Homo sapiens: one gene and its partner. The protein of the gene in region 2 purifies or fractionates together with the protein of the main gene of each other region. This does not show direct contact. Each region holds a gene or a part of one and is shown on either strand. Other genes may lie near its edges.

Region 1 (3,810 bases), on a different chromosome or scaffold from region 2:
CTCTGGAGAATGAGCCCAGAGCATTGGGGGCCACTGGAGCAGGAGGAACAGACGCAAGACAGAGAGAGGACCGAGCCAATGGGGGGCCACCCACAAGCCCCCGACCAGGTCCCTGAGGACCATGGTGTTCAGGCATGAGGCAGCCACCACATCGCATCGCAGCAGAAGACTATGGAGCCTGTGACAGCAGGTGGGGACAGGGATACCTTGCTGTCTAGTTTCTTCATGGTCACTAGATCTAGAGACTTCAGGGAGTGCCCTGTGGGCGTGATGAAGTAGAGGCAAACGTGGATCCTTGTGTCATGGTAGTCGAAGAGCGAGCGGCGGATCTTCAGCTCCTCCTGCAGATAATTTTCAAACTGCGCATCGATGTAGTCAACTATGGGCCTGTAACTACAGACAGCTCCATCACCCAGGAGGCTGCCAGCTGAGATCAGGGGCTTGGGGCTTGGGGGGCTCAGGGCTCGGGGCCAAGCCAGGCTGCCCCCTGGCCTTTTCTTTCTGGGAACAGCTTCTGCCTGAGATCCCTGACTGGATACAGGCAGCTGACCCCTTCTCCAGACACCTAAAGGAGTAACTGGTCTGTTGGTGACCACAGAGCCTCAGATATTCCCCAAGAGGCCCTCCCTGGCCCCCTGCAGTGTGAGGGCTGGGCTACTGTTATAGGGGCCAATGTAGGTGGGGTGGGAGGAGGCTGGGTGGGGCCGCCCTTCCCGCCTCTTGCCTCTCATCCTTATTGATCTGATCCCCAAAGCCCACGGCATCCACAATGGTCAGCTTGAGCTGCACGTTGCTCTCCTGGAGGTCATAGGTCTGGGGCCGCAGGCGCACGCATGCCTCATGGTGACTGGCTTCCTCAGTCTCGAAGGTCGTGTTGAAGAGTGTGTTCATCAGTGTGGATTTGCCAATGCCGGTCTCCCCTGGGCAGTGAGGACAGGAGGGGAAGAAGTGGGTGTCATAGGCTGGAAATGGGCTGTCCTTGACTGGTGGCTAGGCCAGGCAGGGCTCAGGCATCCATGGCCCCTGGATAAGAGAAAGGGGCAGGCCGCCCACCCCATCCCTCATCACCCCCATTCCCCAGGAACTATCTTTTCCTGTGGCCTCAGAAATAACCTGTGGAAGGAAGAGCCAAAAGGTGAACTTGGACAGAAGACATAGCTGTGTGTGATATGTGATGTATTTCCTCAGGGAGCAGGGAAGAGACAGAGCCAGGCAGCTGTGTAGACACCACTGCAGACCCAATCACCTCACACATAACCTGCTCTACACAACACCCCTCCTGGGACCAGGGTGGTCATGGGACCAAGAGGGCCAGGGTCTAAAGCCACCAGTGGCTCAACCCATGCGCCCCGGACAGCCCTAGCTCCACATGGCTTTAGCTGGGGGAACTCAGGATGGGCTGCTTCCCGAAGGACACCTGCAGAGGGACCAGAAGAGCACTTTGTGTCCTTCTGGGAGTCCCAGGGAACCTCCGAGAGCCTCTCTGCTTGGGGCTGTTATTTGTTCACATGCGTGCTGGAGCACTTACCATAGGATATGGTGATGAGGGGCAGAGCTGTTTACCATAACGTCCTTGACACAGGGTGGGAAGCAGTAAATGAGTACATGTTTTTTAAATGAACAAACAAATGAATAAATGAACCTAAATCTCTGTGATAAACACCCACAGTTTACAAAGCACTTTCATGTGCCCGATCCAGTTTACTCTTCATGACAATGCTGTGTCAGGCCCTGGCTCTAACTCTATCCTTGACTCTGGCAGAGACACCAACCAAATCCTCGTCCTGACACCCCCAAAGTTTCACTCTGCCTGGGAAGCCCCCTTGCAGCTCAACAGGGGGCCAGAAGCACCCCCTCTCCCAGGAGGTTCTCACCCACCCTCTGTCTGAGGCCAGGCCCTGACACTCACCCACACAGAGGATGTTGAAGCTGAAGCCCTGAGTGACCGACTTGCTGACCAGCTGGTCGGGGAGGCTGTCGAAACCCACATGGCCGCCCAGGGAGAGGCTCCGGGGCTCTGGCTCTGCATTCTGCCAAGAGAGAAATAAAGCAAGACATGAGCCCACTGGGGAAGAAAGGTCAAGCTGCGGGGTGGGCGCTAAATCTGAGTTAAAACAGTGAAGCAGCCCCACCCGATGTCTGAATTCTCAACAAATCTCAGACACACCCTGAGTACACCCGAGCACCAACTCCAGGCCAAGTTTCCCCAGAGGGAGCCCGATGCCCCCAGGGGGAAAGGCCCTTCCACTCTGTAGCTTTGCTCCACCTGGGATGGCCAGGGATGCCTGGGCTGAGGGCTCCATGTCTCCTGGCATAGGTGGCCCCAGGGGCTGTGGTTGCTACCCATAAGGGCCCACCTGTTTTCCTACTCAGGAGGAGGCCCCAGATGGTCCCAGAGGACCAGATTGGAAAGTGTGTCTGTTCCTGCAGCCAGCTCTAGGAGACGGGGGATGCTGCCCCTGCCTAGTCCTCCCAGGCCCTCCCACTGATGCAGGACTCAAGTAGGGCCACGTCTGGTCCAAACCCCTCACAAGCATGCTCCCTCAGAGGAGCCTTCTCTATCAGCTGGGCTCGTAGCCCTCCATGTTCACCCCTGCTCCTCACACACCCACGTGTGGGACTCATGCATGGACCCTGCTAAAGGAGCCGGCCCTCACTCACACAACCCCCCCGTGGGGCTCAGGGGTGGGTTTCAAAGGGACTGAGACTCTGAGGCCTCCTCCCTTCTGCCTCAGTGGTATTCTCTAGAGACCCCCAGCTCCTGGCTCCTGACTCCTGCCACCCTTCCACCCCCATCTCAGCCCTGGTTGTCTAGACAGAAGGTTCCGGGTAAGAATGTGGAGGCCTGGCCTTAGCAGAGGGCTGAGCGGCAGGCCCCGAGTGAGCTGGGGCCACTGGAGGTGGCCCACCGCTCTATAAAAAGAAACCACGAGGACCCAAAGCAGAGGGTCATGGTCACACTCCAACTTGTGTGGCTGGTTTCTCTGACTCCCTGGAATGGGGTAAAATGCTGCCCGAGGGAAGGTTCCCAGGTTCAGCCCCTCTGGAGGGCAGACCTTAGGCAGCTCCATGTTGTGCAGAGTCATGCCTCCTCCATTCCTGAGCCCCACTGCCCTGAGACAGCTAGAAAGAGGAAGGAGAGGAAGGGGCAGCGGATTCAGAGTCTCTCCTGCCCATAGCCGCAGGGTGGTGAAGCAGGTCCAGCTAAGGACAGCCCAGGAGATAGGGCCAGTGGCAGCCCTTGTGCAGATGTGGATACAGGCTCGGGGTCAGGAACCGACAGGGGGCCCTGACTCCTGCCCCACAGAAGCATCTCCTCAGCACCTGAGCAGCTGACCTGTGCCACAGCCCACTGCCTTGGCCTGAACCCCTCTGGCCATCCTTCCCTCCCAACCAGAGAACCTTGGCACTCAAACCCAACCTTCTGCACAACTGATGTCTACCTCCCCACAGCAGCCTTGCATCAACGACTCCCAAGTGTGGGTGCTGGCAACCTAGACCCCACATGGCCCCTCTGGGCAGTTGTACCATCCCCTCAAACAAGTCAGGGCTACCCCTAAACCTGCTTTCTCCCATGACTCTCTCTCAACGGAGCCTCTTTTCTTATAGCTGACCCTTTCTCCCCATCACCTAGCCCCAAAGCATCATGTCCCAATCTCCCCACTCAAGCCCAGATCTCCTTAGGGCTGCAAACATAATTGGACAAGGAGGTCCCAAAGGCAGTTTCCTCTCATTGGTGCCCACATAAAAGTAGTTAATGAAGCCTAGGAGGTGCTGGGTCAGGTCCAAAGCCCTTAGCATGGTGTTCCA
Region 2 (3,781 bases):
GGATCAACTGAGGTCAGGAGTTCAAGACCACCTTGGCCAATGTGGTGAAACCCTGTCTCATATGGTGAAACCCCGTCTCTTCTAAAAATACAAAAATTAGGACATGGTGGCGGGCGCCTGTAATCCCAGCTGCTTGGAGGCCAAGGCAGGAGAATCGCTTGAACCAGGGAGGCGCAGGCTGCAGTGAGCCAAGATCACGCCACTGCACTCCAGCCTGGGCAAAAGAGCGAGACTCCGTCTCAAAAAATATATATATATATATGGCTGGGCACAGTGGCTCATGCCTGTAATCCCAGCACTTTGGGAGGCCGAGGCAGGTGGATCACCTGAGGTCAGGAGTTCGAGACCAGCCTGGCCAACATGGTGAAACCCCGTCTCTACTAAAAATACAAAAAATTAGCTGGGCGTGGTGGCACGCGCTTGTAATCCCAGCTACTTGGGAGGCTGAGGCAGGAGAATTGCTTGAACCCGGGAGGCAGAGGTTGCAGTGAGCCGAGATCGTGCCATTGCACTCCAGGCTGGGCAACAAGAGCAAAACTCCGTTTCAAAACAAAAACAAAAACAAAAAAATACATATATATATAACCTAGTTGCTCAAATTCACCCAATTCCAGAACAGCTACAGCAAAACCCCTTTTCTGTGTGCTTTAATATTTGGGGACCTTCCTTGCTCTGTTGCCCAGGCTGCAATGCAGTGGTGCAATCGTGGCTCCCTGTAACATCCACCTCTCACGTTCAAGCGATTCTCCTGTTTCAGCCTCCCGAGTAGCTGGGACTACAGGCGCCCACCACCATACCCAGCTAATTTTTATATTTTTAGTAGAAACGGGGTTTCACCATGTTGATCAGGCTGGTCTAGAACTCCTGACCTCAGGTGATCCACTCGTCTCGGCCTCCCAAAATGTTGGGATTACAGGAGTGAGCCACCACGTCCACGCCCAGCCTCTGGACATATTTTTTTTTGAGATGGAGTCTTGCTCTGTTGCCCAGGCTGGAGTGCAGTGGCGCAATCTCAGCTCACTGCAAACTCCACCTCCCGGGTTCACACCATTCTCCTGCCTCAGCCTCCCGAGTAGCTGGGACTACACGTGCCCACCACCACGCCCGGCTAATTTTTTTGTTTTTTTTTTTTTTTAGTAGAGATGGGCTTTCACCGTGTTATCCAGGATGGTCTCGATCTCCTGACCTCGTGATCCACCCACCTTGGCCTCCCAAAGTGCTGGGATTACAGGTGTGAGCCACCACGCCCGGCCAGGATATGTTTTAAGAGCAGAAATTGTGCTAGGTGCAGTGGCTCACACCTGTAATCCCAGCACTTTGGGAGGTGGAGTCAGGAGGGTTCAAGACCAGCCTGGGAAACAGAGTGAGACCCTGCCTCTATTTTAAAGAAAAAAAAAAAGAGCAGACACTGTATGTCCTTGGCCCAGATCCTTCCACAGTGCTCAGGACCCAGGGCTTGCATGCAGCTTTCCCACATGCTTAGGGATCTCAAGGAATGGACGCAGGTGAAGGGGCCATGGCCAGGGGTGATGTTGCCCAATGGGTAGGAGGTGACTACTGGTTCCCTCATGTGCCCAGTGATGGCAAGGGTCAGAGCTGTCTGCCTGGGAGTGAACGGCTCACCTGGCCAAAGGCAGCTCTGGCATGCTCAAACCCTCCAACCTGTAGCCGCTTCTTGAAGAGGTCCAGCGGATATGTCAGGGTCTTGCTGATGACACCAGCTCCACTGCCACAAAGCAGGTTTTGGAGGTTCTCTGAACCAGAGAAGTGGGATTGGGAGAATGGATGAGAGAAATGCAGTCTATGGGTGACAACTTAAAAGGCGTCAGGGCTAATCCTCCACCACAAACCAAACCCCACAAGCGCACTTCTATCTGACCTCCACTGGTCCTCCCATTCCAAAAAGGAATGTAATCTAGGGGGAGAAGAGCCAGACACGGCCACTTCTGGTGGAGTGATCCGGGCTGGAAGGGTTGGAGGCCGCAGTCCCCCAGCTGGAGGCAACATGGGCCTCAGGCTCTGCAGCATGACTCAGTTCAGGGCTGGAGAGGACCAGGATGCCCCACCCCTCCCCAGCCTCCCCCTGCCCCCATCTCCCACTCCCCCTGCCTGGAAAAAGCAACTGAAGAACCTCAACCAAAAAACAAGCAATTTGCAATTTGGACTTCTGACAAAAATGAAAACCATGACCAATCACTGGAAGTAAATTTCAGTAATGCCAGTGATGGGTGTGGCAGGAGCTGGAAGAAATCAAGTCCTCTCCAAGCAGCTGCAGTTGTTTTGTTTGCCACATTACAGAGCCAGGTACAGAGACCCGCGGTCTTTGATTCGGACAGGAGAACTTTAGCTCCTTTGTGATTTGGAAGGGGGTGTTCTGGTGGCTGGGGTGGGAGGGCTCCCTCTCGTGTGAGGGCTGCCTCACCATTTTTCTTTCCTTCGGCTGGTATGGCCCACTTGTACAGGTGCTTCAAGGAGCTGTAGCAAGAGAACTGCAGCCCGGCGTAGGGGAAGATGGCGATCAAGGTGGGAGCCAAGCCTTTGTAGAAAACCTGGGGGCCTTCGCTCCTATACATGGTCCCCACGGCGTGGCGCAGCGTATTATAGACCTGGACACACACACGCACTTTGAATGAGCTCAGTGAAGTGGTTTTAGCCCTGGAACAGCCCATCATAGCTCTGTCCCCTCGCCTAAAATACCAGCTACCAGGAGCGAAACTCCTCCTGCCAGGAAGACAGTCAAGGGAAACGCTGGACAGAGATTCGAAGGATGGCATTTTCCAGAAACTCCCCCTTCTACACATGTATACCACTGTTATATCCACAGGTGTGCACAAAAGTATGTGTCCAGGAGTCACTGCAGCGTCCTGGGGAAGAGCTAAAGACGCGATGTCCATCTGTGGGTGCTGGTTACGTGAATTATGGGACACCAGCTCACGAGAGAATAGTGCAGCTGTTAAAACAGGAAGGTGAGGCCAGGCGCGGTGGCTCACGCCTGTAATCCCAGCACTTTGGGGAGGCTGAGGCAGGCAGATCACTTGAGGCCAGGAGTTTGAGACCAGCCTGGCCAACATGGCGAAAGCCCATCTCTACTAAAAATACAAAAATTAGCTGGGGGTGGTGGCTCATGCCTGTAATCCCAGCTTCTTGGGAGGCTGAGGCACAAGAATTGCTTGAACCTGGGAGGCGGAGGTTGCAGTGAGCTGAGATTGTACCACGGCACTCCAACCTGGGTGACAGGCGGAGACTCTGTCTCAAAAACATAAATAAATAAATAAATAAATAAATAAATAAATAAATAATAAAAATAAAGTAGAGAGGAGGTCTTGCTATGTTGCCCAAACTGGTCTCGAACTCCTGACCTCAAGTGATCCTTCCTCCTTGGCCTCCCAAAGTGCTGGGATTACAGGCATGAGCCACTGCACCCGGCCAAGCATGTTACTTAGAATTATGGAAGGAAATAATCAAAGAAACAACTATAAGTAGTAAAAGTAGTCGCCTCTGGGGATCGGAATCAGGGAGCGGCTGGGTATTTTTTAAAATTATAATTCATGAAGAACTGTCTTTGTAACCTTGATACATCTTATATGTTGTAAAATTTTTTATCGTTCAAGATCATGTTTATAATATGGTTGTGACTAGTCTTAAGGCAGGTGGAGAGTCTTGTAGGTTTTAACCACATCTCTTCCCCTCACTTTCATGACCAGATATTCTCTGATCATTCTAGAATCTAAAATCCAACATGTCAATAGTTGAAGCTAGAGGTAATATGCTATTATCTTTT

What was found.
Region 1: the proteins of SLC25A19 (region 2) and SEPTIN8 purify together in Homo sapiens (affinity purification with mass spectrometry; one large-scale study listed by BioGRID and IntAct). This does not show direct contact.

What each region holds. Positions count from the first base shown.
Region 1 is NC_000005.10:132,763,500-132,767,309, forward strand, and holds part of SEPTIN8 (septin-8), read right to left. Parts: intron 2,031-3,810; coding exon 1,910-2,030; intron 921-1,909; coding exon 725-920; intron 394-724; coding exon 207-393; intron 1-206. UniProt on the Homo sapiens protein: Filament-forming cytoskeletal GTPase. May play a role in platelet secretion. Seems to participate in the process of SNARE complex formation in synaptic vesicles.
Region 2 is NC_000017.11:75,275,730-75,279,510, forward strand, and holds part of SLC25A19 (mitochondrial thiamine pyrophosphate carrier), read right to left. Parts: intron 2,607-3,781; coding exon 2,423-2,606; intron 1,755-2,422; coding exon 1,624-1,754; intron 1-1,623. UniProt on the Homo sapiens protein: Mitochondrial transporter mediating uptake of thiamine diphosphate into mitochondria. It is not clear if the antiporter activity is affected by the membrane potential or by the proton electrochemical gradient.